2 separate regions of the Homo sapiens genome follow, and region 1 is linked to region 2. The links come from fine-mapping of genetic effects on gene expression. A gene starts in region 2. The other region holds a variant in brackets. All regions are shown on one strand. Distances are from middle to middle.

Region 1 (15,611 bases), 69 kb before region 2:
GCATAATATTCGTTTTCTTAATAAAGTACTTTTCAAAGAATATATAGCTCCATAAATCTGTCTGAATTTCAGATCATCTCCTTAGGGCACATAACTGAAATGTATTTGCTGTCAAAAGGCGTGATACATATTATCAAATTGCTTTCAGGATATAGTGGGGTTTATCAAAAAGGAAATAGTTTATATCAATTATCACTCTTCTGGTAGTGTATTAGTTTGTGAACTGCATAGCACTGATTTACTGTTGCTGTTTAATTTCCATTATCTTGATGGGTGAAAAATAACGATTAGTTCTGATTTTAACTTGCTGGAAGATTGATTAAATTTGAACATTTCCCAGATTCCTCTCCTGTATCCTCCTATACCTGTATTCTCTCATACTTAATCTGTTATCAAGTCCCGCAGATTCCACTTTTTTTGGTATGTGTAGATACATCTTTTCTCCATTTTACTCCTGTTGCCTTAGGCGATTCCTTTAACATATATTTATGAGACAAGTTCTAACTAATCTCCCTAGTTCCACGTCGACCCCCTTCTGTTTGAGTGCCACGCTGTTGCCAGGGTGATCTGTCTGAAAGAGTTTTGGTGAAGTCACCCTACATACTCCCCGGTTTAAAAGTCTTAAAAGGCGCTTAGTGTTTGTATATCAAAGTCTTTGGGATCTGATCTATGCCTTGCCAGTCTTTTCACTTGCTTTTCCCTCTCCTATTTGTGCTTCATCATAATTAAGAAAAAAAAATGTTTATGGATCCCTGGGCAGATTAGTCTGTTTCATTTAACCATTTGGCCTCCAACCAATAGAACTGATCAACTAGTCCCTCTTTGATACTATGCTTACACTCCACTCAGAGGGTCATGGCAAGTATAATGTATATTTGCATTTACATCTTTAATAATGACATTCGGTGCTCCTGTAGGACCATAAGCCCATTCTGGGCTTATTGATTCTTGTATGCCAGAGCCGAATATTGGACATGGCAACTAAAAAATGTTTCTAAAATGAATGTGTGAATTCCCAATAATGTCTTTTTTTCATTTATCTCTGGAGCCCAAATATTTCCCTGATTTTATTGATTTGCATACATTTTTATATAATGAAGATATTATATAAAGAACTTACATAACCTGTGTTTTGTTTGTGTTTTAATTGTTGTTTAATCTTTTGATCTAGTGAAGTTTTTTATGTTTATATATTCAGATATAGCCATCTTTTATTTGTTGACATCTCCCACTGATTTGTTGCTGTTAATTTTTTTTTTTTTTTTTTTTTTTTTTTTGAGACGGAGTTTTGCTCTGGTCGCTGAGGCTGGAGTGCAGTGGCGTGATCTTGGCTCACCTCCACCTCCTGGGTACATAAAAGCGATTTTCCTGCCTCAGCCTCCCGAGTAGCTGGGATTACAGGCACCTGCCACCACGCCCAGCCAATTTTTTGTATTTTTAGTAGAGACGGGGTTTCACCATGTTGACCAGGCTGGTCTCGAACTGCTGACCTCAGGTGATACACCCACCTCAGCCTCCCAAAGTGCTGGGATTACAGGCGTGAGCCACCGCACCCGGCCGATTGCTGTTAATTTTTAATGGTATCTAACACGTAATAGGCATTGAATAAATAACTGCTAAAAAATGAATGAGTTAAAAATTTGGTGAACTCTCTGTTTATACAGACGTCTTACAGAAAAGCTGTCAGCATAATTGAATTTTCTATTAATAGTTTGCTTTTTTCTCTTACTATATCACGAGCATTTTTCCATGACAGTAGTCTTCTTTTTTTTTTTTTCAGCTACACCAAAATTGCATTGAGCCAAACTTGCCACCAAGAGCCCAACAATCACCATGATGCTGAGCACGGAAGGCAGGGAGGGGTTCGTGGTGAAGGTCAGGGGCCTACCCTGGTCCTGCTCAGCCGATGAAGTGATGCGCTTCTTCTCTGATTGCAAGATCCAAAATGGCACATCAGGTATTCGTTTCATCTACACCAGAGAAGGCAGACCAAGTGGTGAAGCATTTGTTGAACTTGAATCTGAAGAGGAAGTGAAATTGGCTTTGAAGAAGGACAGAGAAACCATGGGACACAGATACGTTGAAGTATTCAAGTCTAACAGTGTTGAAATGGATTGGGTGTTGAAGCATACAGGTCCGAATAGCCCTGATACTGCCAACGATGGCTTCGTCCGGCTTAGAGGACTCCCATTTGGCTGTAGCAAGGAAGAGATTGTTCAGTTCTTTTCAGGGTTGGAAATTGTGCCAAATGGGATGACACTGCCAGTGGACTTTCAGGGGCGAAGCACAGGGGAAGCCTTTGTGCAGTTTGCTTCACAGGAGATAGCTGAGAAGGCCTTAAAGAAACACAAGGAAAGAATAGGGCACAGGTACATTGAGATCTTCAAGAGTAGCCGAGCTGAAGTTCGAACCCACTATGATCCCCCTCGAAAGCTCATGGCTATGCAGCGGCCAGGTCCCTATGATAGGCCGGGGGCTGGCAGAGGGTATAATAGCATTGGCAGAGGAGCTGGGTTTGAAAGGATGAGGCGTGGTGCCTATGGTGGAGGGTATGGAGGCTATGATGACTATGGTGGCTATAATGATGGATATGGCTTTGGGTCTGATAGATTTGGAAGAGACCTCAATTACTGTTTTTCAGGAATGTCTGATCATAGATACGGAGATGGTGGGTCCAGTTTCCAGAGCACCACAGGGCACTGTGTACACATGAGGGGGTTACCTTACAGAGCCACTGAGAATGATATTTATAATTTCTTCTCACCTCTTAATCCCATGAGAGTACATATTGAAATTGGACCCGATGGCAGAGTTACCGGTGAGGCAGATGTTGAATTTGCTACTCATGAAGATGCTGTGGCAGCTATGGCAAAAGACAAAGCTAATATGCAACACAGATATGTGGAGCTCTTCTTAAATTCTACTGCAGGAACAAGTGGGGGTGCTTACGATCACAGCTATGTAGAACTTTTTTTGAATTCTACAGCAGGGGCAAGTGGTGGCGCTTATGGTAGCCAAATGATGGGAGGGATGGGCTTATCCAACCAGTCTAGTTATGGAGGTCCTGCTAGCCAGCAGCTGAGTGGTGGTTATGGAGGTGGTTATGGTGGTCAGAGCAGTATGAGTGGATATGACCAAGTTCTGCAGGAAAACTCCAGTGACTATCAGTCAAACCTTGCTTAGGTAGAGAAGGAGCACTAAATAGCTACTCCAGATATAAAAGCTGTACATTTGTGGGAGTTGAATAGAATGGGAGGGATGTTTAGTATATCCAGTATGATTGGTAAATGGGAAATATAATTGATTCTGATCACTCTTGGTCAGCTTCTCTTTCTTTATCTTTCTTTCTCCTTTTTTAAGAAAACGAGTTAAGTTTAACAGTTTTGCATTACAGGCTTGTGATTCATGCTTACTGTAAAGTGGAAGTTGAGATTATTTTAAAACTTCAAGCTCAGTAATTTTGAACACTGAAACATTCATCTAGGACATAATAACAAAGTTCAGTATTGACCATAACTGTTAAAACAATTTTTAGCTTTCCTCAAGTTAGTTATGTTGTAGGAGTGTACCTAAGCAGTAAGCGTATTTAGGTTAATGCAGTTTCACTTATGTTAAATGTTGCTCTTATACCACAAATACATTGAAAACTTCGGATGCATGTTGAGAAACATGCCTTTCTGTAAAACTCAAATATAGGAGCTGTGTCTACGATTCAAAGTGAAAACATTTGGCATGTTTGTTAATTCTAGCTTTTTGGTTTAATATCCTGTAAGGCACGTGAGTGTACACTTTTTTTTTTTTTAAGGATACGGGACAATTTTAAGATGTAATACCAATACTTTAGAAGTTTGGTCGTGTCGTTTGTATGAAAATCTGAGGCTTTGGTTTAAATCTTTCCTTGTATTGTGATTTCCATTTAGATGTATTGTACTAAGTGAAACTTGTTAAATAAATCTTCCTTTTAAAAACTGGAAAAAATCTTGAACTGATTGATTTTTATTATGTTCTGTCATATGGGCACACTGATTGACTTTACAATTCCCTCAAAGTTAAGATTTTTAATTTTAAAATTATAAATGATATTTAGCATCTTTATATGTTCATTGTTGCATATATCATTAATTATTTCTAAGATATATCCCTAGAAATGGGATTGCTGAGTCAAAGATATACTCATTTTTAAGGCTTCTGATTTGTGTTACCAGAAAGATTCTGGTACTTTATCTTTCTACTTGGAGTGTGTGTTTTATTTTCCCCCTTATACCCTCCTTATTGATGCACATTATTCTTTTTGAACTTTGCCAGTTTTTTAGTTGAGAAATGATATCTCATTGCTATTTTAATTTGTATTTTTTTGATTAATATTAAAGTTGTACATTCTTTTTTAAAAAAAACTTACCATGTCTACAGGACTATTGAGCTACTTTTGGAGACTGTACTTACCAAGATAGTATTCTCTAAAATCCAAAGAAGTGAAAGCAAATAAATAATCCTTTTTATTTCACCACAAACTAGAAGGCACGTTTGTATGTTTAAAAAGAAGTAGGCTTACAATTATGTGTTAAAAACAAAACATAAAAAAGAAGCAGGTTTATGTTATGGAAATAAATTGTCTCCTCCATGAATTCATTAGTAGATTCTCTATAAACACTCTCAGGTGTATTTTAGGGCATCTAAAGCTTATCTTAAACCAGCGGTTCTCAAACATTCATGTGCATCAGAATCATCTGCAGGGGTTGTTTAAACATTCATTTCTAGGCCCCATCCCTAGAGTTTCCAATTCAGTAGTTTTGGGATGTTGCTTGAGAATGTGCTGATGCTGCTGGTCTCAAGACCACGTTTTGAGACCCATCACAGTTCCCCAAACAGCAACTTTAAGGAGCAGCTTCCTTTATGATCCCTGATTGCCTCCCCTTTGTTCCCATAACAAGTAGTTTAAATTTTCTGTTAAAGTCCAAACCACATATTTACAATACCTCGCACCTCTTAATGAGGATTTTGAGCTGCTGTGGCATTGTGTGCTGATATCTTAGATTTCTGTCTGGATCACAGTGGTCATTAACAATTCCACCCCTCAATAACTTTAAGGCCCTGATGTCCCTCTTATCAGTACCAACTGTACCGTGAACTACAGATCTCTGTAGTTTCACTGACCCCTTGGGGACTGGATTGCTATACTTGGGCTGTTCAGGGCTTGGGGCCCAGAGAAATGAGATGGGAGGCAAATACCAAGTTGGTATTACCTGACTCCGTTTCATTCAGGAAATGAAAATCAATTCTAGAAAATCATTCAAGCTGAAGATGCAGTGAGACGTGATTGAGATTCTTTGATGACTTCTAATTTTTATCACAGCTTTCAGGAGAGCAAGAAATCCATTTTGACTCCTATCATGTTGAGCCAGTCCTTGCCCTTCAGGAAGCCTTTCTCAGAGGGTAAACAAGTAGGTGTTTTTGCCTTCCCAGGCTACTTAGTTAATTTTCCAGAAGTTTCTCTAAGTCTGAGCAAAGATTCTCAAGTTAGCCACTAGATGGCACCAAATCCCAGGAGACAATAGAGGGTTCTTTGTGATCTTAGATGTTCACTTACTCTTCTTCGCTGGCTAAGAAGACTCAGAAGGGCTCTGGGGAGCAAAGGAGAGAGAACCTGGAGAAGGTCAGCGGTCAGCACTAGAGGTGTGCAAAGGGACAGCAGTACAGCTGGTGTGCACACGCGTGCACACCCACCACCATTCGTGCTCCAACACTCACATCTAACACTACTACCCAGGAAAGTGATGGGAGGTCGAGTGGGCAGTCCACCCACAACACCCCCCAAACACTGAGTCAGAGGATTTATTTTCAACTGCGTGTGTGAGCTATTTGGCAGGATCAGGCAGAAAATTTGCAGCCACAGTTATCGTGGTCTAAGTATCCGATGGCTTGTGCCAGTGGTTCTCTGGGTGTGGTACCTGATCAGTAACAGCATGAACCTCCACCTTGTGAGATATGCAGATTCTTTTTGCCCCCCCGCCCCCCGCCTCGTCCCTTTCCCCCAAGGACTGAATCAGAAACTGGGTGTGGAGCCCAACAAGTTGTGTTTTGTTTTTTGTGTTTTTCTGAGACAGGGTCTCGCTCTTGCCCAGGCTGGAGTGCGGTGGTGCGATCTCAGCTCACTGCAGCCTTGAATTCCAGGCTCAAGTGATACTCCCACCTCAGCCTCTCGAGTAGCTGGGACTACAGGCGAGTGCCACCAAGCCCAGTTATTTTTTAAAATGATTTTTATAGAGACGGGATCTCACTATGTTGCCTAGGCTGGTCTCGAACTCCTAGGCTCAAGAGATCCTCCTGCCTTGGCCTCTCAAAGTGCTGGGATTACAGGTGTGAACCTCTGTCCAGCCAATAAGCTGTGTTTTAACAAGTGCTCAGGGTGGTTCTGCTGCAGGAAACTACTGGCTGATGGATACATGGATTCCATTATCCACCCATTCATTGATTCCTGCATTCACTCATCCAACCCTAAAGGAGGTAACCAAAACAGAGACAATCCCATGTGTAAGCATGACATATCTTCTCTGCCTTCTCTACCCAGCAAAATGATACGAAAATGCATTGCGAATATGTTTATAAATCAAGCTCCTTTTCCATCAGGTAGAATTCCTAGTGCTGTCAGCTAAAATGAAGATTTCTCCAAGATGGGCCTCCAGGGCTATTGCAAAACAGCTGCTGATGGAAGGAAATTCCACTTGCTGTGCCTTATACCAGGCTGGGAGTGTCACAAGAACCCTTTACAAGCTGCTCCCACAATGACCAAAACTGTCTTCTCATGAGTGCAAAGCAGGCATGCCCAAGGGGCCCAGGTTAGCATGGTGCAGGACTCCGCTGGGAAGGTGAGGGGTTATCGTCGCGGGGGAGTGTCGACTAACTGGGCTGGTGGTGCAGGGGTAAAATAATTTACCAAGACAGTTGGAGGTAAAGGCAGATTTATTAGAGAAAGTAGGAAAATACGTTTCGAGAAGGCAACGGGCAGCCTGCAAGAGAGGAGCCGACTGAAAAGAAACAAAGGCTTGCTGGAGATTTTATAGGATGGTTTTTGGGCTGATTGAGAAAACCAAGGCAGTAGGGAGCTAGCTTGCATTCTTCTGTTAGCTGGGGTGTTTGATAAATTGAGGCGTTTGATAGTGAGCAGGAAGTTTGTGAGTTATGTATGTTATCTGCGCAAGAAGCCACATGTCCTGGGCCATAAAGAAAAGCAGACCTATAGCTTATCTGATTCCTCTTTTTGTTTATATGTTCTGGACCATGAAGAAAGACAAACTTATAGCTTATTTGCTTTCTCCCTTTGCCTTCCCCTGCTCCAGCCAGCCTAACTCCTTTTTTCTAATTAGGATTCCACAGTTATGTTGTCCCTGTGCCTGCAGCCTGTGAATGGACGCCCCACCACCTCCGTCACAGCAGTGGTCAGCACAGATAAATGCACACAACACACATCGATCTGGCCCTCTGAGAAGAGAATGTTAGGCTTCTGAAAGAAGAGATAAATAGTGAGAGATAACATCTAAGAATCAAAATAATATATTCAGTAATTATTTTCTGAACCTATCCTAATGCTCTGACCGATACATTCTTTAGAACATCTACCCGTACATTCCAAGGACCCTTTTTCCACGGCCCTTTTTCTCCCTGTATCCCTCTTCCTGCTCCCCTTCTTTTGCACAGGGCATGTTTCACATATACAAGATGTTCTTACGTGTCATCCCACTTTAGAGATGAGGAAATTGAGTCTCAGGGAAGGCAAACATCAACTTTGTCTTGGGGAAAGGGCAGGAAGCTGGAAGGGAGGAGGAAATGAGCTCTGGCGAAGGAAAGAGGACATGGCTGGGATCCTTATGGGGTGGTGTACGAGTACCCGTGCCCCCCCCGATCTGTGGG[C/G]TGAGGGTGGCGGTGACTAGCGCTGGGACCAGCTCCTTCTCTCTCGCTCCCAAGCCCACAAGAATTCGGGGAGAAAGGGTGAGGTAGGGGGCTCCGGGAGAGCGGAGAGAGTTTGGAAAGAATCCATCCCTCCTTCTCCCCGGCGGCTTTCTCGAGACCCTCACACAGCGCCCCGCCCCGCCCCAGTACATTTCCTTTCAGGGAAAGGGACAGGGAAGAGGCTGTCGGGAAATGGCGGCCGCGGCCGGGCTGGGGCTTCAGCGGGAGGCAGCAGAGGGGAAGTGGTCAGCGTGGCGAATGACGGAAGGTGGCGAGGGAGAGGAAGAGGGGTCGGGTGTCCGCGGAGCTCCAAGAGGGAAGACAATCGCTTTGCCAAACACGGCAGGGCATCTGGAAAGGCCTGGGAACCTCACCCGCCCTCCCAGGCCCTTCGGGCTCTTTTCGGTCCCATTAGGAGGAGGGGGAGGGCGGCAGGTGGGACCGGGCACAGGCCTAGTCGTGCGACAGGAGAAGGGAAGGAAGGGCCGGCCCCAGCTGGGTCCTCCTTGCGTCTGGCCTGTGCCGGACGCCCCCGACTCCGAGTGATCTCGGGCCGGTCCCCGGGGGAGTCCAGCTTCTCGCGCCAGGGGAGTTCTCAGCCCCAGGGCAGTCCAGGGATTAGGCGGAAGGGGGCACGCAGCCACCTGGCCGGGGCAGGGGGAGCTGCGAGGAGCCTTTTTTTTTTTTTTTTTTCCTGCGCAGAGCCCCTTGCGTGACACACAGTAGGCGCTCAATACATGTTTATTTTCAGTTGAGTGTTGCTTCAGCTTTTATGGCTTGTGATAAATCCTTATCCTTCTGTTCTAGAAACTCGCATTGTCTACTGGATCAAGGACAGACAGCTCACCAACCGTGACAGCACCATACTGGAACTTCAAAAAGTTCTGAAAACATGTTGGTTCGTTTGTTGGAGTATTTTTCAACTTAAATTCCTTTTCCTTTTTTTTTTTTTTGCTCACTTTTTCCTCTGCAGAAAAACCTTAAAATGTTCTACCTTTTCCTTGAAACCTCCTCCCACTCCTTAGTTCACATTGACTTGTCTTTAAATGTTTTTGAGAAAATAATCAGAAATGCACAATTAGTGCTTGGTGGTTCTCAAATTATTTCACGCGTGGTAGTTTTGATTTTTGCTTTTCCAGTGAGGCTGTACCTTTCATCCTTAGGCAAATATGATGGCTTTCAAAAGCAGCTATGGGGTGGGAACTGGGAGTGGCTGCAAATGGGCATGGAGCGTCTTTTAGAGATAACGAAAATGTCCCAACTTAGATTGTGGTGATAGTTCGCACAACTCTATAAATTACTAAAAACTATTGAATTTGCACTTGAAAAGGGGGAGAACTTTATGAAATATAAATTATAACTCAAAGAAGCTCTTAAAATGCCTATGGAATAATAAGTAAAGAGTAGTGGGGATATGATCTATTTTGTGGGGAGACTAGCAGCAAAGTAAGACATAAAGATAAAGAAACATACACTGGCCTGAGGAAGTAACAAAGTCTCTTTGAGCAAACTTTGGACAGGCTCCTCTCAGCTTTCTTTTCAACTACACCTTGTCCTTGGGCCCTGTCCTCGGCCTGCCTAGCCCAGTTTTAGCAAGAGTCCTGCTGAGTAACTCCCTCACCCTTGATACCTGATCACCTTGTCCTGCCTTGAGCGAGAATCCTGTTTAGTCAGTTGAGCAAGAATCCCCCTACCCTTGATATCTCTCTCCCCTTAGGAATTTTCTTTCTACTGACTCCCTCACTCTGCTGCTTGACTGTAAATCCACACTTGTCCTAGTTGTCTTTGGATTGAGCTTAGTTCTATACTGAAGTCTCTTTTCCTCTATTATAATAGTACTCAAAATATGGCTTTACTGCTTTTGACTAGTATCTGGCTCTGTTTCCCATTGGCGGAAGGCACTCTCAGACAGTGCTTCTAGTAGTATATATTAGCATGACCTGCCAGGGTACAATTCTTTTTAAAAAGACCACCAATTGGCTGGATGCAGTGGCTCACGCCTGTAATCCCAGCACTCTGGGAGGCCGAGGCGGGTGGATCAGGTCAGGAGTTCGAGACGAGCCTGGCCAACATGGTGAAACCCCCATCTCTACTAGAAATACAAAAATTAGCTGGGCATGGTGGTGTGCGCCTGTAATCCCAGCTACTTGGGAGGCTGAGGCAGGAGAATCACTTGAATGCAGGAGGCGGAGGTTGCAATGAGCCAAGATTGTGCCACTGCACTCCAGCTTGGGTGACAGAGTGGGCCTCCGTCTCAAAAAAAAACAAAAACAAAAAAAAGACCACCAATTTATTGCCAGGCATTGTACTGGGTGCTGAGGAAATTTGAGGAAAAACACCTATTAAGTTCCTGTCCTCAAGGAGCTCATAGTACAGTGGGGAGCCAAGTAGCAAGCAAATAGCCATGCAAGTGTATAATTGCAATGAGGACAAGTATCATGAAAAGGAGGGTACATGGTGCAATGAGAGCCTATAAAATAGGGGTATTCGACTAGTCAAGGTGGTCAGGAATTGCTTCAAAGAAGCAGTTATTGAGCTGAGAGTTAAAGGAAGAATAGTGGCTAATTAGATTGGAGGTGAGAGTTGGAGGAGCTGGTTTGAGGCTATGTGTTCAGAGATGGCATGGTGAGTAAAAGAGACTGAATGAAAGTGGCTGGAGTTCAACAGGCAGTTGGGACAGCAGTGTGTTGGGTCAGGGCATGCAGGGCCTTACAAGCCATCTTAAGCCATTCAGTCTATATCCTAAGAGCCATTGGAAGCCCTGTGGGATGGGGAGAACGAATCAGATTTGTCTTTGAAAATATTGCCCTGGGGGCCAGGCACAGTGGCTCATGCCTGTAATCCCAGCACTTTGGGAGGCTGAGGCAGGTGGATCACCTGAGGTCGGGCATTCGAGACCAGCCTGGCCAACCAACATGGTGAAACCCCGTCTCTACTAAAAATACAAAAAGTTAGCCGGGCATGGTGGTGCATGCTTGTAATCCCAGCTACTCGGGAGGGTGAGGCAGGAGAATCGCTTGAACCCGGGAGGCAGAGGTTGTGGTGAGCTGAGATCGCGCCATTGCACACCAGCCTGGGCAACAAGAGCAAAACTCTGTCTCAAAAAAAAAAAAAAAAAAAAAGAAAGGAAAAGAAAATATTGCCCTGGCTACAGTGTGGATAAAGGATTGGGAAGGAGTCAGAATGTATGGAGAGTTTTATTAGAAGCCATTTCAACAATCTAGAGTAGAGGTAATAGTAGCTTGTACTACAATAGCCATGGTTTACATGGAGGGGATTGGTATATTTTAGGGTTTCTTAGGAGGTAAAATCTGCAGGACTTGGCAATGGATTGGAATTGGGAGGGAGGGAGTGTGATATTGTGAAGTACACATTTAGTCTTTAGTTTGTTTTGTGCTGCTATAACAATACCCGATAGTGGGTAATTTATAAACAGAAATTTATTGCCTTACAGTTCTGGAAGATAGGAAGTCTAAGGTTAAGGTGTGGGCAGGTTTGGTGTCTGGTGAGGCCATTCTCTTTTTCCAAGATGGTCCCTGCACACACTGTGTCCTCCAGAGGGGAGGAAGGCTAGATCATGACATGGCAGAAGACAGAAAGAAGGGCCAAGAGATAGAGCAAGAGGAGACCGATCTTGCCCTTTTATAATGGCATTAATCCCACCTGTGAGGGTAGAGCCCTCATGGCTTAATCACCTCTTAAAAGTCTCACCTCTTAATACTATTACTGCAACCGCCCAGTGGGTTCACCTTGCCTGCTGCCTAGACAGAGATTTATCAAGACAGGAGAGTTGAAATGAAGAAAGAGTAATTCACACACAGCCGGCTGTGCAGGAGACCAGAGTTTTGTTATTACTTAAATCAGTCTCCCAGAGCATTTGGGGGATCAGTTATTATTATTATTATTATTATTATTATTATTATTATTATTTGAGACAGAGTCTTGCTCTGTTGCCCAGGCTGGAGTGCAATGATGTGATTTCGGCTCACTGCAACCTCTGCCTCCCGGGTTCAAGCGATTCTCCTGCCTCAGCCTCCCGAGTAGCTGGGATTACAGGTGCCCGCCACTATGCCAGGCCAATTTTTGTATTTTTTAGTAGAGATGGGGTTTCACCATGTTGGCCAGGCTGGTCTCGAACTCCTGACTTCAGGTGATCCACCCGCCTCAGCCTCCCAAAGTGCTGGGATTACAGGCGTGAGCCACCGTGCCTGGCTGGGATCAGAGTTTTTAAAGATAACTTGGTGGGTAGGGGCTTGGGAAGTACGGAGTGCTGATCAGTCAGGTTGGAGATGGAATCATAGGGGGTCGAAGTGAGTCTTTCTTGCAGTTTTGTGTTCTGGGTGGGATGGCAGAACTGGTTGAGCCAGATTACAGGTCTGGGTGGTGTCAGCTGCTCCATCGAGTTCAGGGTCTGAAAAGTATCTCAGGCACTGATCTTAGGTTTCACAATAGTGATGTTATCCCCAGGAGCAATTTGGGGAGGTTCAGACTCTTGGAGCCAGAGGCTGCATGACCCCTAAACTGTAATTTCTAATCTTGTAGCTAATTTGTTAGTCCTGCACAGGCAGACTAGTCCCCAGGAAAGAAACGCCTATGATCAATTTTGTTTCAGAATCAAACCACAAACTGAATTCCTTCCCAAAGTTAGTTTGACCTATGCCCAGGAATGAACAAGGACAGCTTAAAGGTTAGAAGCAAGGTGGAGTCGGTTAGGTCTGATTTCTTTCACTGTCATAATTTCCTCAGTTATAATTTTGCAAAGGTGATTTCATTACAATGGCAATTAAATTTTTCATTTTTATTTTATTTATATATATATATTTTTGAGACGGAGTCTCACTATGTTGCCCAGATTGGAGTGCAGTGGCGCAATCTTGGCTCAGTGCAACCTCTACCTCCTGGGCTCAAGCGATTCTCCTGCCTCAGCCTCCCGAGTAGCTGGGATTACAGGCGCCCACCACCATGCCCAGCTAATCTTTGTATTTTTACTAGAGACAATGTTTCACCATGTTGGCCAGGCTGGTCTTGAACTCCTGACCTCAGGCGATCCACTGGCCTCGGCCCCCCAAAGTGCTGGGATTACAGGCGTGAGCCACCATGCCCATGGGGCAATTAAATTTTAACATGAGTTTTGGAGAAGACAAACATTCAAACCATGGTAGTCTTCATCCTCATTTTCGCGAATTACAGCTTTTAAAACCCTTAGAATCTCTGAGGTGATGAGAGTATCTTTTGCCCTGGGTGGTGGCTCACGCTTGTAATCCCAGCACTTTGGGAGGCCGAGGTGGGCGGATCACCAGGGGTCAGGAGTTTGAGACCAGCCTGACCAACATCGTGAAACCCCATCTCTACTAAGAATACACAATTAGCCGGGCATGGTGACACATGCCTGTAATCCCAGCTACTTGGGACGCTGAGGCAGGAGAATCGCTTGAACCTGGGAGGCGGAGGTTGCAGTGAGCTGAGATCACGCCATTGCACTCTAGCCTGGGCAACAAGAGTGAAACTCCGTCTCAAAAAAATAAAAATAAAAATAAAAATAAAAAAGTATCTTTTGCATGCTAATGAGATAACTGGTGGCTGAGGCTCCTAGGTAGATTTAGGACGGGGGCGCTGGTCAAGGCAGGATTAGAGAGTTGAGACTTTTTCACCACACCCCCAGCCTCTGGGGAAGGGAGAGGAGCTGAAGGTTAAATTGACTAGCAGTGGCCAATGATGTAATCAATCATGCCTACATAGTAAAGCCTCTATTTTATTTATTTTTTATTTTTATATTTTGAGATGGAGTCTCACTCTTGTTGCCCAGGCTGGAGTATAATGGCGTGATCTTGCCTCACTGCAACCTCCATCTCACGGGTTCAAGCGATTCTCCTGCCTCAGCCTCCCAAGTAGCTGGGATTACAGGCATGCACCACCACGCCTGGCAAATTTTGTATTTTTAGTAGAGACAGGGTTTTGCCATGTTGGTGGGGCTGGTCTCGAACTCCTGACCTTATGTGATCCACCCACCTCGGCCTCCCAAAGTGCTGGGATTACAGGCGTGAGCCACCGTGCCTGGCTGTAAAGTCTATAAAAACCCGAAAGAATTGGGTTTGGAGAGCTTCTGGATAGCGAACACATGGAGGTACCTAGAGGGTGCTGTGCTTGTAGGGGGCATGGAAGCTTGGTGCCCCTTATCCTGTACCTTGTCCTATGTGATTGTTCCATCTGGCTGTCCATCTATATGCTTTGTAATATCCTTTATAATAAACCTGTAAACATGTTTTTCAGAGTTCTGTGACCCTCTCTAGCAAATTAATCAAACCCAAGGGGAGGGTCATGGGAACCCTGATTTACAGTGGGTCAGTCAGAAGCATAGCTTACAACCTGGCATCTGAAGTGGAGAGCAGTCTTGTGAGCCTGAGCTCTCAAACTGTGGGATCTGACACTATCTCCAGGTAGGTAGTAACAGAACTGAATTCAATTAGAGGACATCCAGCTGGTGTCCACTGCAAAACTGATTGCTTGATGTATGGGAAAATTCTCCCATACATCTGGGGCTACAGAAGCATTCTATATTAAATAGAGAGTATAGGAAAATCCACATTTTGTTTACTCCCCCCTGTATCTTACAGTGAGAGTGAGCGGTCAAGGGTGACTTCTCAGTTTCTGGCTTGTACAACTGGATGTTTGGAGTAACAGCATTAAGAAGCAGGACCTTTAAGATCACATTGAATACTAAGTTCAGGTATGAGGACTGTGAGTTTAGTCTTAGACATACTGTGTTTGACGTGCCTTTGAGAACACCCAAGAGAATATAGGTAGTTGGATGGATGGATCTAGAGCTCAGAAGGGGCCTATATATTGGATATATAAATTGTGTGCTATATGGATATAGTTGATAATTCAAGCCATGTGTGGGGATAAGGTTGTCTAGGCCAAAGAGTATCAGAGTGAGAATGCAGGAGATCAAAGAAGGAGGCTTGAGAAACTCCAGTATTTCATGTGGAGTACAGGAGAGTCAGCCTGCAAAGGAGACTGGGAAACAGCAGCCAGGGAGGTTTAAAAGAAAGTTAGGAGGGACTTGTGTCATTGAAGCCAAAGAAAGAAACTGTTTCAAGATGTAGGGAATGGACTGTTAACAATGTCCATTGCTGCTCAGAGGTCAAATAAGATGTGGACTGGTAAATATGTGTTGCATTTAAGAATATGGAGGCATTGGTGTCCTGGATGGATCTATTTTCATGGAATGACGGGGCAGAAATCTAGAATGGAACAGATTGGAGTGTGGTTAGCAGAGAGAGGAAGGCACTTTTTTTTTTTTTTTTTGAGACGGAGTTTCACTCTTGTTGCCCAAGCTGGAGTGCAATGGTGCGATCTCGGCTCACTGCAACTTCCGCCTCCCGGGTTCAAGCAATTTTCCTGCCTCAGCCTCCCGAGTAGCTGGGATTACAGGCGCACACCACCATGCCCGACTAATTTTTTGTATTTTTAGTAGAAACGGGGTTTCACCATGTTAGCCAGGCTGGTCTTGAACTCCTTACCTCAGGTGATCCGCCTACCTCAGCCTCCCAAAGTGCTGGGATTACAGGTGTGAGGTACTGCGCCCAGCCGGTAGGCAAGTAATGGAAACAAAGAATATAGGCAGCTATTTGAAGCACTTTGGCTGTGAAGGGCATGGAAAA
Region 2 (15,611 bases):
CAAGCGATTTTCATGCCTCAGCCTCCCGAGTAGCTTGGACTACAGGTGTGCGCCACCACCCCTGGCTAATTTTTGTATTTTTAGTAAAGACGAGGTTTCACGATGTTGGTCAGGCTGGTCTTGAACTCCTGACCTCAAGTGATCCACCTGCCGTGACCTCCTAAAGTGCTGGGATTACAGGCATGACCCACCACACCCAGCTTAATCTATAAATTGGATGCAATCCTAATGAAAAGTCCAACAAGATTTTTTAAAAATGAAACTTGGAACTTCACTTGAAATGCCCAAGGATATCCAAAAATAGTTGGAAAAAGCAGGGCAATGAAGGATTTGTCTTCCCCGACACCAAAACTTGCTACAAAACGACACCATGTAAAAGTGTGATATTGAGGCAGTTTATAACTATATATATTATCAGTGAAACAGAAAAGTCAATCGATGAAACAGATCTGAGTATAAATGAGAATTTAACATATGGTTAAGTTAGCTCTTTAAATTTATTGGGGAATAATGGACTATTATATGAATGGTGCTAGGATTTGGAGACACACACACACACACACACACACACACACACACACACACACACACACACACATATATATGCAATGACCCAGAAGCCATACAAGAAAAGGTTAATGTTTTGACCACATCATAATGTAAAAATTCTGGAGTTAGGTGCCATGGCTCCAGAATCCAAAGTGCTGGGATTATAGCCCTGGCTCATGCCTGTAATCCCAGCACTTTGGGAGGTCTGGGTGGGAGGATCTTTTGAGACCAGGAGTTTGAGACCAGCCTGGGGAATATAGTGAGACCCTGTCTCTACAAAACATAAAAATTAGCTGGGCGTGGTGCCATGCATTTGTAGTCCTAGCTACTCAGGAGACTGAGGCAGGAAGATCGCTTAAGCCCAGGGGTTCAAGGCAGCAGTGAGCTATGATCACGCCACTGCAGTCCAGCCTGGGCGACACAGCGAAACCCTGTCTAAAAAAGTAAAAATTCTGAATATCAAAAATACCATAAAATTAAGATGTTAGTGATAGATTGAGAAAATATATGTACAACCTATATAACAGAAAAATAACTAATATACAGAAATGTGTAAAGAACTACAAACCATTTAAAAAATACAGCTGAATAGGAAAATACTCAAAGGATATTAACTAATACTCAGAGAAGAAATGCAAATGGATGTTAAGCATGTGAAATTATGCTCAAGATAATAGATATTTAGGAAAATGTGAATTAAAAGGACAATCTTGCCAGGTGCAGTAGCTCACACCTGTGTGATCCCAGCATTTTGGGAGGCCGAGGTGGGTGGATTGCTTGAGCTCAGGAGTTCGAAACCAACCTGGGCAACATGGCAAAAACCCGTCTATACCAAAAGTACAAAAATTAGCTGGGCGTGGTGGCATGCGCCTGTAGTCCCAGCTACTGGGGAAGCTGAGATGGGAGGATCACCTGAGCTCAGGAAGGTCGAGGCTGCAGTGAGCTGTGATTACATCACTGCACTCCAGCCTGGGCAACAGAGTGAGAACCTATCTCAAAACAAAACAAAAAAAAGGACAATCTTTTGTTGACTCTTATATTGGCAATAATTACTAATACAGACGGTCCCCAATTTATGACAATTCAACCTATGATTTTTTTACTTTAATTGGTGGTGCAAAAGCAATACACATTCAGTAAAATCTGTACTTCAAGTACTCATACAACCATCCTGTTTTTCTTTCAATGTAGTATTCAATAAATTATGTGAGATATTCAACACTTTATTATAAAATAGGCTTTGCATTAGATGATTTTGCCGAACTGTCAGCTAATGTGAGTGTTCCGAGCATTTTTAAGGTAGGCTAGGCTATGATGTTTGGTAGGTTGGATGTATTAAATGCATTTTAGATTTATGGTATTTTCAACCTATAAGTTTATTTGAACATGACCCCATTATAAGTTGAGAAACATTTGTACACAGTGTGCATGAGAGTGTGGGGAAATAGATCCTGTCTTATGTTTGATGGGGGTATAAATTGGCCAAGCCTTTTTGGAGGACAGTTTGGTGGTATATCCATTAACTATATAAAATCTCACATCCTTCTTTTGGCAATATCAAATGTATAAAATCTCATACATTTAAGCAAATAATTATATTTATAGTAGAATATCCTAAAGAAATTCTTCTACCTGTTGGCAAAGCTTTATGTGCCAGACTGTTCATTGTAACCTTGCTTTATTAGCTCCGGATCCAGAACTCATAATATGCAGCAGTTAAAAAGAATGAAGCAGCTTTAAATGTACTGGTATGTAGAGCTCTTTGAGACATAATTTTAAATGAAAAAAAAGCAAGTTGCAAAACAGTATGTTAATTATGATCCTGGCCAGGCGTGGTGGCTCACACCTGTAATCCCAGCACTTTGAGAGGCCCAGGTGGTTGGATCACTTGAGGCCAGGAGTTTGAGACCAGCCTAGCCAACATGGTGAAACCCAGTCTCTACTAAAAATACAAACATTAGCTGGGCATGGTGGTGCGCACCTGTAATCCCAGCTACTAGGGAGGCTGAGGCATGAGAATCGCTTGAACCCGAGAGGTGGAGGTTGCGGTGAGCCAAGATCGCACCACTGCACTCCAGCCTGAGTGAAAGAGCAAGACTCCATATAAAAAAAAATCTCATTTATATATTTTAATAAGACATGTATGTGTATATCATGTATACAAAAGGTTAATACACCAAACTTAAAATGGAGAGGTAACTGTGATTTGGGTGAGGATAGGGGAGTGAAAGTGGTACTAGTGCTTTTTCTGGGTTTGACTATTCTTTTCTTTTCTTTTCTTTTCAGAGACAGGGTTTCACGCCATTGCCGGTCTGGAGAGCAGTGGTGCAATCATAGTTCACTGTAACCTTGAATTCCTAAGCTCAAACAATCTTCTTGCCAAGTAGCCTCCCAAGTAGCTAGGACCACAGGCATGCACCACTAAGCCCAGCTATTTTTTTTTTTTAATAGACAGGTTTCCCTATGTCGGGAAACCTATGTAGGGTGGTCTCAAACTCTTGGCCTCAAGTAATGCTCTTGCCTCAGACTCCCAAAGTATTGGGATTATAGGCGTGAGCCATCACACTTGGCCTTGGGTTTGAATTTTATACTAGAATTGTACTCTTGTGGGATTTGTATGTAAAGTAAACAGCAAATATTAAAACACCCCAATTATCTTTCCACTGGGATACACAGAGCTAACTCCATCAGCCACATTGTATAAATATAACATGAGTTATTTAATCTCTCCCCTATCAATAGCCATTTTATGTTGCGTCAGGCTTTTTTTTTTTTTTTTTTTTTTTTTGACAGAGTCTCACTCTGTCAGCCAGACTGGAGTGCAGTGGCGTGATCTAGGCTCACTGCAACCTCCATCCCTTGGGTTCAAGCCATTCTCCTGACTCAGCCTTGCAAGTAGCTGGGGTTATAAGCGCCTGCCACTGCGCCCGGCTAATTTTTGTATTTTTAATAGAAACGGGGTTTCACCACGTTGGCCAGGCTGGTCTTGAACTCCTGACCTCGTGATCCACCTGCTTCGGCCTCCCAAAGTGCTGGGATTACAGGTGTGAGCCACCGTGCCCGGCTGCGTCAGTTTTTTCAAACCTTACAAGCATTGCGAAAAAAAAAAATTCTAGTAAATATATCTTTGTGAAACTGTGTAGGCATATAGGTTGGCTAAATTCCAAGGAATAGAATTATTGGGTCAAAGAATTTGTGAAATATTATAGTTATCATTTAATAGAGTTTGCCAAATTGCCCTATATAAAAAGCTTGCATCAATATCTGCCTCCAACAGAGTAGAGGAGTGCCCATTTCTTGACAAACCAGTCAACAATATTATCAAGTTTCTAAACTTTGAGAAAATCATACTTGAAACATGGTAAGGCATAGTTGCTTTGATTTGCATTTCTTTGTTTGAGCATCTTTTCATATGTTTATTAGTAATCTATTTCTTTTCTGTGAACAAATCTGTTCATGTCTTTTGGCACATTTTTCTATTGGGTTGTTTATCATTTTACTAATGATCTGTAAGAGCTTTTAGATTATTACAAGTTAGCCTTTTGACAGTCAATGTTTATGGTTTTTTTTTTTTACTTTACCAAAGTTTAAAATTTGTATGCAATTAATTTATCAATATTTTCCTTTGGTGGAGAAAGTAAGTTCGTCACTTTCAATTGAGTTCTGAAAAGCCATTAGTAAGATTGTAAGGCACTAGGACTTCCTTTCTTGGCTCCTGAAAGGGCCTCCTCCACACAGGGGCCCCTCACAGTGGAGCCCCTCCCTCTGGGGTGTCCTATTTCAATGTTCTAAGAAAGAGGCTGCCTGGAGGGTCTATATTTGGAGTATGACTCCTCAGCGGGGACAGGTGGATGCGTGGGGACTAACTTCTGCATATTTGGTCCCTGAGTTTTGGGATTATTCTGAGGGGCTTGTATGGGAGGTGCAGTGAAGTTGTAACACAAGGCAGGACATGAAAAAACTTCTTTTTCTTGGCAATTGCTTGGGATCCTGTACATTGCCCTTCCACTTGTGAGGGAAAAAAATAATGACACGGACATCAGGTGTGTTGCAGTGATTCACAGTCATCCACAGACCCTCACCACCATCTCCACTGGAAAATATTGAACACTCGCCACTGCTAGGGTAGTATGTAGTACATGAATGGCAGACACCGGCGAGATCTCAAGTGTTACGACGGATGAAAATTCCACCTGTTAAGTCTCCTTTCCATCCAAGCTCTAGCAGTTGGTTGTTCCATGGGTGTGGTGAGGCTGATCTGATTACATGCTTATGTAAAATCCAAATAAAGCCCCTTGAATGGAAAACAGGTTAATTTGGGAAGTCACTAGTAAAGCAGGTTAATTTGGTAAGTCACTAGTAAAGCACTAGGCTCATCAGGAGTTGGGTCTTAAATATATCCTCTAGAAGTCTTCTCTGAAGAAGGTCTTAGACACCTGAAAAAAGATGCTGAGTTCAGCCAGAACTTCAAAAGTTACAAATCACCTGTGTAAAATTGTCAATATTAGAAAACGAAATGTCTTTCCAAAGATTAACTTATAGATCATATTGAATACGTGCTGGTTTTGTTTAGGACAATTTTGTATTTAAAATGTCAAGAATTACTAGTCAATTTTGAAAGCTGTAAAATAGTTTGCAGTAACAGAAGACATTTTAAAATGTGGCACAAAATAATGTAAACAAAAGAATGAGTCTTTTGTTATTTTTACACCCTGAATATTTTTTGTGTCAAATGAAAATGGCTATACTGTATTTTCTGATTACAATATTAGAAAAGAATGTCATATTAAAAGAAAAAAAAGGAACACGAAAAAGAAAATTAAAGCTCTACTTGCACCTTCTGCTTTCCTTCCTGATACCCCCTTCCACAGCCCATTTGGTGCAGGCATTGTACTTAGAGAGGGCAGGTCGTGTAGGGGGCGGGTGGGGAGTGCTGGTCTTATAGTCTAAGAGAGAAATAAGTGATTACTCAAAGAAGAAACATAAAAGGCCACAGCCAAGGGCCGGGAGTGGGTAGGGGGATGCAGACCCTCCCCTGTAACTGAAGATGGGTAAACTCCAACCACAAGGCGATGATGCCACTTGTGGGCCCTCAGATTGGAGAGGACGGAGATGAGTGACAACGCGTGCGCACTGGGGCACCGAGCACAGACCAGAGAACGGGGATGTCTGTGCGTGCGGAGTGGAGGAGGGGGGAGTTCCTGGTGACTGGCCGCCGGCCCTTGGTGGGTGGTAGGGGGTGCTGGGGAGGAGGGCGAGCTCGGCGGTGACGCGCGGTCCTCACGTGACCCGGAGCTGCAGAGCTACGCAGCCTTCGTTGCAGTCGTCACTCGCATCTGGCTACCAGCTCCCCGCTGCCCTGCGCTCGGCGGGCTGGCATCGGGCCCGGGGAAAGCGGAGCAGGTAAGGGCCCTGGGGCCCGCGCGCCCTGGCCAGGCCGGCAGAAGCTCACTGACCCCGGCAGCGGTTACGGGGCTTGAGGGGGCGGTGGTCTATGCTGCCTCAAGTTCGAGGAGCCTTTGCCTCTGATTCTCCCTAGCCCCCTTGCCCCCGCCTACATCTGTGCAGGCGAACCGTGGGCTTTGATTTGTGGGGAGATTGTCTCTGCCAGAGGGAAATACAGAGATTGAGATGCCCATCGCTCTAATCACTGGCCACACATGTCCGCTCGCTTCCTGCTCAATTTAGTGGAAGGGATGCGCCACGGTGGCGTTTGCAGAGAAAATGGTGGGCCTTAGAGACTGGACGGTGGGGTTGGTAAGGGTGGTGTCTCAGACTGTGGGGAGGGACGTTTGATAACCAGGTTCCTGAACCCGGAAAGGCGAGTATTGGGATCTATGTCCTGGGCTCTAGACCAACACTAAGTGGTTTTACTCTCTCCTGTCTGTCGGACAGTAGTTCGGTGTAGCACTGTTTGCGGCGAGGAGAAAGGAAGGAGAGGAGAAAACTGCACTGGATCAAGGAGGTTAGTGTGAGTACAGACACTATCTAAACCATTGGAGTTCCATATGAATTCTATGACAGGAACTTAGGTGCGGCTGTCTGAATGGGATGTGGGGTGGGGCTAGCTTGGGGACTTTCCCTAAACTGCATTTTACTTACCAAGCTTAGGACTTTTAAATTGTATGTTGAAGACCAATGAAGACAGCAAACTTTTCTACAGATGCTTTTATTTGCATTTCAGATAATATTGAGAAAAAGATAAATTATATTAAAGAATATTATTATTATTATTATTTTTTAGATAGCCTTTGGTGGGGAAGGATAGTGATTTTGTAGAAGCAAAAGGCTTCCCCTATAGCTTTTCTCTTCTGCTGGAGACTCCTAGAGATAGGTTGAAAGGGACGTGGACAGCAGTAGGTTGTGGTTCTAGAGTATGGGATCTGGGGTCTCCCATCTCTCCTGCCATCCTTCAGTTTTCCAGATCCCTCTACCTACCTGACCATCTTGGTGAAGGAAATGGTGGGCTTTTGGGGAAATCCCTAGAACCCTACAGGTGGTTTTAAAATAATTTGCCTTGTTGGGCCTAGTAGCTCTTGCCTGTAATCCCAGCACTTTGAGAGACCCAAGCAAGAGGATTGCTTGAGCTCAGGTGTTCAAGACCAGCCTGGGCAACATAGCGAGACTTCATCTCTACATATAATTTAAAAATTAGCTGGGTATGGTGGCACAGTCTGTAGTTCCTGCTACTTGGGAGGCTGAGGTGGGAGGATCTTTTGAGCCTGGGAGGTCGAGACTGTGGTGAGCCATGATCTTGCCACTGCAATCCAGCCTGGGTGACAGAGTGGGGCTCTGTCTCAAAATAAATAAAAAATAAAATAAATAAAATAAAATAAAATAAAATAAAATAACGTGCCTCTGTCTGTTGCCTTTTACTTTTCCTGCCTCCCTTTTCCATCCTTCCCATTTCAGTGCTGGGGAAGCCCCAGGCTTTTTTTTTTTTTTTTTTCTGCCAGCAAATGGGTCTCTAAATCCAGGCAGGCAGGTACAGGGACCTATGTCTTAGATGGTAAGTGTCACAAGTACTTAACATCCACTCTCTTCTTTTTCTCCATCTGTTCCAAGGTCTTCCCATAGGCCTGCAGTAGGGCTGTTTACCATTGGAAGCAAGGGAAAGAGGAGGAGATCAATCTAGAAGCATGGAGGTTGGTGTGAAGTGGGGGTAGTCTCTGGGGATGACAAGAGAGGGTGGGCATAGGAGGTGGGTGAGATTTAAGAGGGTCTCAGTGGAGTGCTGGATTGCCACAGTGCTGCCATGCCTCCTGTGGATTTCAGTGCAGGAAATGATAGGAATATGGGGGTAAGGGTGGGCTGGAGTATGACTGGGGGAAGACTTGATGGGGGGACCATGAGATGGTACACATTAGTATATAGAACCTGGGCTCTGGCGAGGCAGACATTGGGGTCAGGGATCAGGTTGCTTGTCTGTTCTACCAGGGACTCGGTTTCCATTACCTACTGTTTGTTTACTTGTCCATAGATCTGCCTGCATGTCTGCTGCAGGGCTTAAGATCACTGGAAGCAAAGAAACAAAGAGGAGATTGCTCCTGATCAGTATAGACTGGTAAGAGTGTGGGGACTGCCTGGGTAGACCTCTAGAGTGGGTTGGTGGAGACCAGTGTGCATCCAGTAAGGACCAGTGACCAGTCTGGAGGATGAGGATCCTCAGTCTCTCCTTTTCCAGCCACCTTTCCCACCATCCCTGTCATTTACTCCATACCCTCACCTTAATTCTGGTACAGGGAAAAGAGTGTGACAGTGTCTTAGGGAGTGGGGTGGACTGAGAAACGTAGAAAGGTAGTTTGCTAATAATATGTCTGTCCCATCAAGAACAAACTCTCTACTCCCATCTGTCCCTCCATCTGTCTGTCTGTCTCTAGGTCCAGAGATCTCATGAATTTATGTATCTACTTTAGGGTGTACTGCCAAGAGAAGCAAGAGGAGAGGAGGGAACTGCCTCGGATCATTACAGGTTGGTATGAGGGTGGGGCCCTGTAGACAGGTGACCAGAGTAGGTCCAGTAGAAATCAAAGTCTGGGACTTCTTGGTTGCTCCCATTTATCGTCAGACCTCCTACCATCCTTTCCACTGTTCATTTGGTGTATAGAAATGTGTATAGAAGTATCTTGGAAGAAAATTATTGGGCATTGGGGAAGGTGGAGAGAAGATGAAATAAGAGGAATGGAGAGGCTGCTAATCATCCTCTCTTCCACCAAGCACATGGTTCTACCATTTTCTGTTCCTCTGTGTATCTATCTGTATGATGCAACAAAATCAGAAGAGAAATTTTAGTCCATTTCCTTCCTCCACTTCTAGGTCCACCTCCAGAGGCAGCTGTAGTGGCCTTTGAGTGGCTGAAGACCAGCACCCTCACAGGCCTACACCCACAACTACCACTCTCTTTACCCCAGCCCGAGTGCGCTCTACCATACCTTGTTCGTGCTTTTAGCAGGGGTGATTACATGGGCCGCATTCAGGAAGTGGGCTGGGTGACTGCAGGACTGGTGATCTGGGCTGGCACCTGCTACTACATTTACAAATTTACCAAGGGAAGAGCCCAGAGTGTGAGGACTCTTGCCAGAAATGGATCCACAGTTAAGATGGAGACTGTGGTTGGGGTACAGAGCCAGACCTTGGCCATAAATGAAGCAGAGATTAAGACTAAACCCCAAGTCGAGATTGGAGCAGAAACTGGAGCAAGAAGTGGGCCTAGGGCTGAAGTAGAGACCAAGGCCACTGCTATAGCCATACACAGAGCCAACTCTCAGGCCAAGGCAATGGTTGGGGCAGAGCCAGAGACTCAATCTGAGTCCAAAGTGGTGGCTGGAACACTGGTCATGACAGAGGCAGTGACTCTGACTGAGGTCAAGGCCAAAGCCAGGGAAGTGGCCATGAAAGAAGCAGTGACCCAAACTGATGCTGAGGCTGGCAAAATAGTTAAGAAAGAAGCAGTGACACAGACCAAGGCTAAAGCTTGGGCGCTGGTTGCCAAGACAGAGGCCAAGAGAGAAGCAATGACCCAGACCAAAGCTGAAACTCATATATTGGCTGAAAAAGAGACAGAGATTAACAGAGTAATGGTTACACAGAGTGAGACCTTGGCAGTACCCAGGGAAGTGGCCAAGATGGGGGCCACGAACAAGACTGGAATTGTGGATGAAACCAAGACAAGAGCTCTGGAAGAGACTGTGAGTGTGGCTAAGACTCAGTCTGAGGCCAGGCCTGGTGCCACAGTTGATGCTAGGGGAAATCCCAATGGCATGTCCAGGGAGGTGGCTGGAGTGGACATGAAGTCCTGTGCACAGTCTCAGGCTGTGACCAAGATCCAGGGTGATGACATGCCTGGTACTGGGGTTGAGGACATGGGGAATTGTAAAACCATGTCTAGGGCAGAGTCTGGGGCAGACACGAGGGCTTCTGCTCAGCCTCAAATTTTTGCCAAAACCCAGACTGAGGCCATTCCTGGGGCAAAGATTGATGCCGGGGGTAACACCAATGCCATGTGTAAGGTGGGGGCAGGGGCAGATGTGAGAGCTTGTATACAACCTCAGACTGTGGCCAAGAAACAGGCTGAGGTGACGTCTGGTGCCAGGGTTGATGGTAGGGGAAATACCAATGTCATATCTAAGGCAATAACTGGAGCTGACATGAGAGCTGCTGCTCAGCCTCAAGCTGTTGCCAGTACTCACGCTGAGGCCATGTCTGATGCTAAGGTTAAGAACAGAGGCAATCCCAATGCCATGACTAAAGCAGGGGCCAAGGCAAACTTGAGGGCCAATTCCCAGGTTGAGGCCTTGCCTGATGCCAGGGATAAGAGCAGAGGCAATCCCAATGTTATGGCTAAGGTGGGGGATGGGACAGACATGTTGTCCTGTACACAGCCTCAGCTTGTGGCCAGTGTTCAGGCTGATACCTTGTCTGATGGCAAAATTAAGGTCAGGGGCAATGTCAATACCATGCCTAAGGAAGGAGCTGGGGTGGATATGAAGGCTCAAGGTATGGCCCAGAGCCAGGGTGAAGCCTTACCTAATACTAGAGGTAAGGCTAGGGGCAAAGCCAAAGCCAAGTGTAAGACAGGGCCTGGGATGGACATGAAAACCTGTACACAACCTCAGGCTGGGGTCAAGACCCCAGCTGAGGCCTTGCTTGATTCCAGGGTTGATGGTAGGGGCAATCCTAATGCCACTTCTAAAGCCGGGACTAAGGCAGACCAGAGGGTCTGTGGTCAGCCCCTGGTTGTGGCCAATCCCCAGGGTGAGGCCTTGCCTGGTGCCAAGAATAAAGTCAAGGGCAATCCCCATACTGTGCTTAAGGTGGGGGCTGGAGAAGGTACAACAGACTCTGCCCAGCCTGAGGCAGTGGTCAGTTTCCAGGGTGAGGCCTTGCTTGGCACCAAGAATAAAGTTAAGGGTAATCCCAATGTTGTGCTTAAGGCAGAAGTTGGGGAAGGTGCAATGGGCACTGCCCAGCTTCAGATTATGGCCAGTTCCAAGGGTGAGGCCTTGCTTGATTCTAAGAATAAGGTCAAGGGTAATTCCAATGCTGTGTCTAAGGCAGGGGCTGGGACAGATACAACAGGCTCTGTCCAGCCCCAGATTGTGGCCAATTCCCAGGGTGAGGTCTTGCCTGGTGCCAAGAATAAGATCAGAGGCAATCCCACTACTGTGCCTAATTCAGGGGTTGGGCCATATACAACAGACTCTGCCCGGCTCCAGGCTGTGGCCAATTCTCAGGGTGAGGTCTTGCCTGGTGCCAAAAATAAGGTCAAGGCCAATCTTAATGCTGTGTCTAAGGCAGAAGCTGGGATGGGTGCAACAGGCTCTGTCCAGCCCCAGGCTGTGGCTAATTCCCATTGTGAGACCTTGCCTGGTGCCAAGAATAAGGTCAGGGGAAATTGGAATGCTGTGTCTAAGGCAGGGGCTGGGATGGATACAAGGGGCTCTGCCCAGCCCCAGGCTGTGGCCAATTCCCAGGGTGAAGTCTTGCCTGGTGCCAAGAATAAGGTCAAGGGCAATCCCAATGTCGTGTCTAAGGCAGGGGCCAGAGAAGATACAGTGGGCTCTACCCAGCCTCAGGTTTTGGCCAGCTCCCAGCGTGAGACCTTGCCTGGTGCCAGGAATAAGGTCAAGGGCAATTCCAATGTTGTGTCTAAGGCAGGGGCCAGAGAAGATACAATGGGCTCTGCCCAGCCTCAGGTTGTGGCCAACTCCCAGCGTGAGACCTTGCCTGGTGCCAGGAATAAGGTCAAGGGCAATTCCAATGCTATTTCTAAGGCAGAGGCTGGGGCAGGCATAATGGGCTCTGTCCAGGTCCAGGTTGTGGCCAGTTTTCAGGGTGAGGTCTTGCCTGGGGCCAAAAATAAGGTCAGGGGCAATTCCAATGCTGTGCCTAAGGCAGAGGCTGGGGCAGATACAGTGGGCTCTGCCCAGCCCCAAGCTGTCGCTAATTCCCAGAGTGAGACCTTGCTTGGTGCCAGGAATAAGGTCAAGGGCAATACCATTGCTGTGCCTAAAGCAGGGACTGGGGCAGGCACAAGGCACTCTGCCCAGCCTCAGATTGTGGCCGGTTCCCAGGGTGAGACCTTGCCTGGGGCAAGGGACAAGTCTATGTCCACTTCTGAGGCAGAAGCCACAGCAGAAGATGAGGCCTATGCAAAGCCTGAGGCTGAGGCCATGCCCACTTCTGAGAGTGAGGGTGGGTCAGGCACTCAAGCCTGCAGAAAGACTCAGCCTAACATCCATGACTACTACTGGAATGGGATTGGTGTTGAAGACTGGATTGCTGCTGAGCGGTGGATCAAATTTAGGTTTCAGACCATGGATGGAGACTGGGAAAATAGCGTGTCCTGGGCTGATGATGAGAATGAAGCCAGTATTGGGTCCTGGAGTGGGGCTAGTGATAAGGCTGGGATTATTCGGTCTTGGGCTGTGGCTTGTGATGAGACCAGTGTTAAGTCCTGGGCTGGGGCCAGGGCTGAGAATGTGGTTGGTATTGGGACTTGGGCTAGAGCTGGGGAGCAGGCCAGTGGAGGGCTCTGGGCTGGGGGTCAGACTAGTGAGGGGACCTGGGCTGGGGACAAGGCCAGTGGAGGAGCCTGGACTGGGGCTGAGAACCAGGCCAGTGGGGGGTCTTGGGCTCTCGCTGGGAATCAGGCCATTGGAGAGCTTTGGGCTGCGGGTCAGGCCAGTGATGGGTCCTGGCCTGGGGGACAGGCCAGTGGGGTGTCCTGGGTTGGGGAAGAGGCCATTGGAGGGTCCTGGACTGGGGCTGAGAACCAAGCCAGTGAAGGGTCTTGGGCTGGAGCTGGGGCTGGGAATATGAGTAGTGTTTCATACTGGGCTGGGGTTGTGGATCAGGCCGGTGGAGGGTCCTGGGCTGGGACTAGTGATCAATCTGGTGGTGGGTCCAAGCCTAGATTTGAGGATCAAGCCAGTGGAGAAGGGTCCTGGGCTGGGGCTGGTGGCCAGGCTAGTGGAGGGTCAATGTTGGGGCCTGAGGACCAGTCCAGTGGAAGGTCTTGGGCTGACACTGCAGACCAAGCCAGTGGAGGGTCTAGGCTGGGCCACGTAGATCAGTCCAGTGGTGGGGCCTGGGCTGGGACACTTGATCAGTCTGGTGGTGGGTCCAAGCCTAGATTTGAAAATCAGACCACAGAAGAAGGGTCTTGGGCTGGGGCTGGTGGCCAGGCTGGTGGAGGGTCCAAGGTGGGGCCTGAAGACCAGTCCAGTGGAAGGTCATGGGCTAACTCTGGGGACCAAATCAGTGGAGGATTCTTAGTTGGGATTGTGGACCAGGCCAATGGAGGGTCCTGGACTGGGGCTGGGCATCCAGCTAGTGTTGGGCCAAAGCCTATATTTGAGGATCAGGTCAGTGGCAGAGGGTCCTGGGCTGATGCCAGGGAGCAGGTTGTTGGAGATTCTAGGCTGGGGCTTAGGGACCAGTCTAGTGGAGATTCCTGGGCTGGCACTGGGGACCAGGCCAGTGGATGGTTCTGTGTTTGCCCTGGGAGTCAGACGAATGGAGGGTCTTGGGGTGGGGCTAGTGGCCAGGATGTTGGAGGGTCTAGGCCAGGGCCCACGAACCAGTCCAGTGCTGGGTCCTGGGATAGCCCTGGGAGTCAGGTCAGTGGAAGCTGCTGGACTGGGGCTGGGGCTGTGGATCAGGCTGGTGGTTGTTCCAAACCTGGATTTGAGGATCAGGCCATTGGAGGGGGGTTCTGGCCTGGTGCTGGGGACCAGACTGGTGGAGGCTCCAGGCCAGGGTCTGAGGATCAGTCCAGTGGAATAGGTTCCTGGGGTGTGGCTGGTGGCCAGGTCCTTGGGGGAGCTAGGCCGGGGCCTGCAGACCAGTCCAGTGGTGGGTCCTGGGCTGGCACTGGGAATCAGTCCAGTGGAAGGTCCTGGATTGGGCCTGGGGATCAGGCTGTTGACTGTTCCAAGCCTGAATTTGAGGATCAGGCTTGTGGAGGAGGCTCCTGGGCTGGTGCTGGGAGCCAAGCCAGTGGAGAATCCTGGGCTGGATCTAGGCCTGGGAATGAGGCCATTGGAGGATCTAGGATGGGATCTGAGGACCAGGCCACTGGAGGATCCTGGGCTAGATCTGAGGACCAGGCCAGTGGAAGGTTCCAGGTCAGTTTTGAGGTGGAGGCCAATGAAGGATTCTGGTTTGGGCCTGGAGCTGAGGCCGTTATAGGGTCTTGGTGCTGGACAGAGGAAAAAGCTGATATTGTGTCCAGGCCTGATGATAAAGATGAGGCCACTACTGCATCCAGATCAGGGGCTGGGGAAGAGGCCATGATTTGTTCTAGGATTGAGGCTGAGAACAAGGCTAGTAGTGGCTCCTGGATTAGATCTGAGGAGGTGGCTTATATGGGCTCCTGTGTAGGGGCTGAGGCTGGGGCTGGGGCTGAGGCTGGGGCTGGGGCTGAGGCTGGGGCTGGGGCTGGGGCTGAGGCTGGGGCTGAGGCTGGGGCTGGGGCTGGGGCTGGGCCTGGGACTGAGTCTGGGGCTGGGATTTGGTCCTGGGATGGAGATGCAACCACTGTAGAGTCTAGGCTTGGGGCTGGGGAAGAGGCTGGTGTAGAGTCCTGGACCTTGGCTAGGAATGTGGGAGAGGATGAGCTAAGTAGAGAGTCCAGCCCTGATATTGAGGAGATCAGTTTAAGGTCTTTGTTTTGGGCTGAGAGTGAGAACAGTAATACGTTCAGATCTAAGAGTGGGAAAGATGCCAGTTTTGAGTCTGGAGCTGGGGATAACACCAGCATCAAGGATAAGTTTGAGGCTGCTGGTGGAGTTGATATAGGGTCTTGGTTCTGTGCTGGTAATGAAAACACAAGTGAGGACAAATCTGCACCTAAGGCTAAAGCCAAAAAGTCATCTGAGTCAAGAGGCATATATCCGTACATGGTCCCTGGGGCAGGAATGGGGTCATGGGATGGAGCCATGATCTGGTCGGAAACTAAGTTTGCACACCAAAGTGAGGCCAGCTTCCCAGTTGAAGATGAGTCCAGAAAACAAACCAGGACTGGGGAAAAAACTCGGCCCTGGTCTTGCCGCTGTAAACACGAAGCTAATATGGATCCACGAGATCTTGAAAAACTCATTTGCATGATTGAGATGACTGAAGATCCTTCTGTTCATGAAATAGCCAATAATGCTTTATATAACAGTGCTGATTATTCTTATTCTCATGAAGTTGTTCGTAATGTAGGTGGAATTTCAGTTATTGAAAGCTTGCTCAATAATCCCTACCCCAGTGTTAGGCAGAAGGCTTTAAATGCACTGAATAATATCTCAGTGGCTGCTGAAAACCATAGGAAGGTTAAAACTTACTTAAACCAAGTATGTGAAGACACTGTCACCTATCCCTTGAATTCAAATGTGCAGTTGGCTGGACTAAGGTTGATAAGGCATCTGACTATTACCAGTGAATATCAGCATATGGTTACAAATTATATTTCAGAATTTCTTCGTTTGTTAACGGTGGGAAGTGGAGAAACTAAAGACCATGTTTTGGGAATGCTTTTGAATTTCTCTAAAAATCCATCTATGACAAAAGACTTG

Which allele goes with the higher level. Alleles are on the strand shown, and positions count from the first base shown. SD is a standard deviation of normalised expression in the study named.
With allele G in place of C in region 1, the expression in thyroid of the gene that starts at base 5,878 in region 2 is lower (small effect, 0.33 SD a copy in GTEx).

What was found. PIP is the estimated chance that this variant, and not a neighbour inherited with it, causes the effect.
Region 1: its variant is fine-mapped to the expression of ARMCX4 in thyroid (GTEx, PIP above 0.99). The same link has a PIP of 0.9 or more in skeletal muscle, subcutaneous fat and whole blood.

The regions. Positions count from the first base shown.
Region 1 is chrX:101,410,156-101,425,766 of GRCh38, forward strand. RPL36A-HNRNPH2 (RPL36A-HNRNPH2 readthrough) reads left to right here. Exons shown (of 4, transcript NM_001199974.2): 4 at 1,781-3,978. The coding sequence ends at 1,837. It overlaps HNRNPH2 (heterogeneous nuclear ribonucleoprotein H2), which reads left to right. Exons shown (of 2, transcript NM_019597.5): 2 at 1,781-3,978. The coding sequence starts at 1,834. The coding sequence ends at 3,183. It also overlaps a transcript of ARMCX4 not described here. Among named protein-coding and RNA genes, the nearest start is that of HNRNPH2, 9.7 kb to the left of the region's middle. The variant C/G (reference allele first, on the strand shown) is at 7,909.
Region 2 is chrX:101,479,579-101,495,189 of GRCh38, forward strand. ARMCX4 (armadillo repeat containing X-linked 4) reads left to right here and starts at 5,878. Exons shown (of 6, transcript NM_001256155.3): 1 at 5,878-5,952; 2 at 6,445-6,514; 3 at 7,615-7,694; 4 at 8,030-8,113; 5 at 8,466-8,521; 6 at 8,866-15,611. The coding sequence starts at 9,012.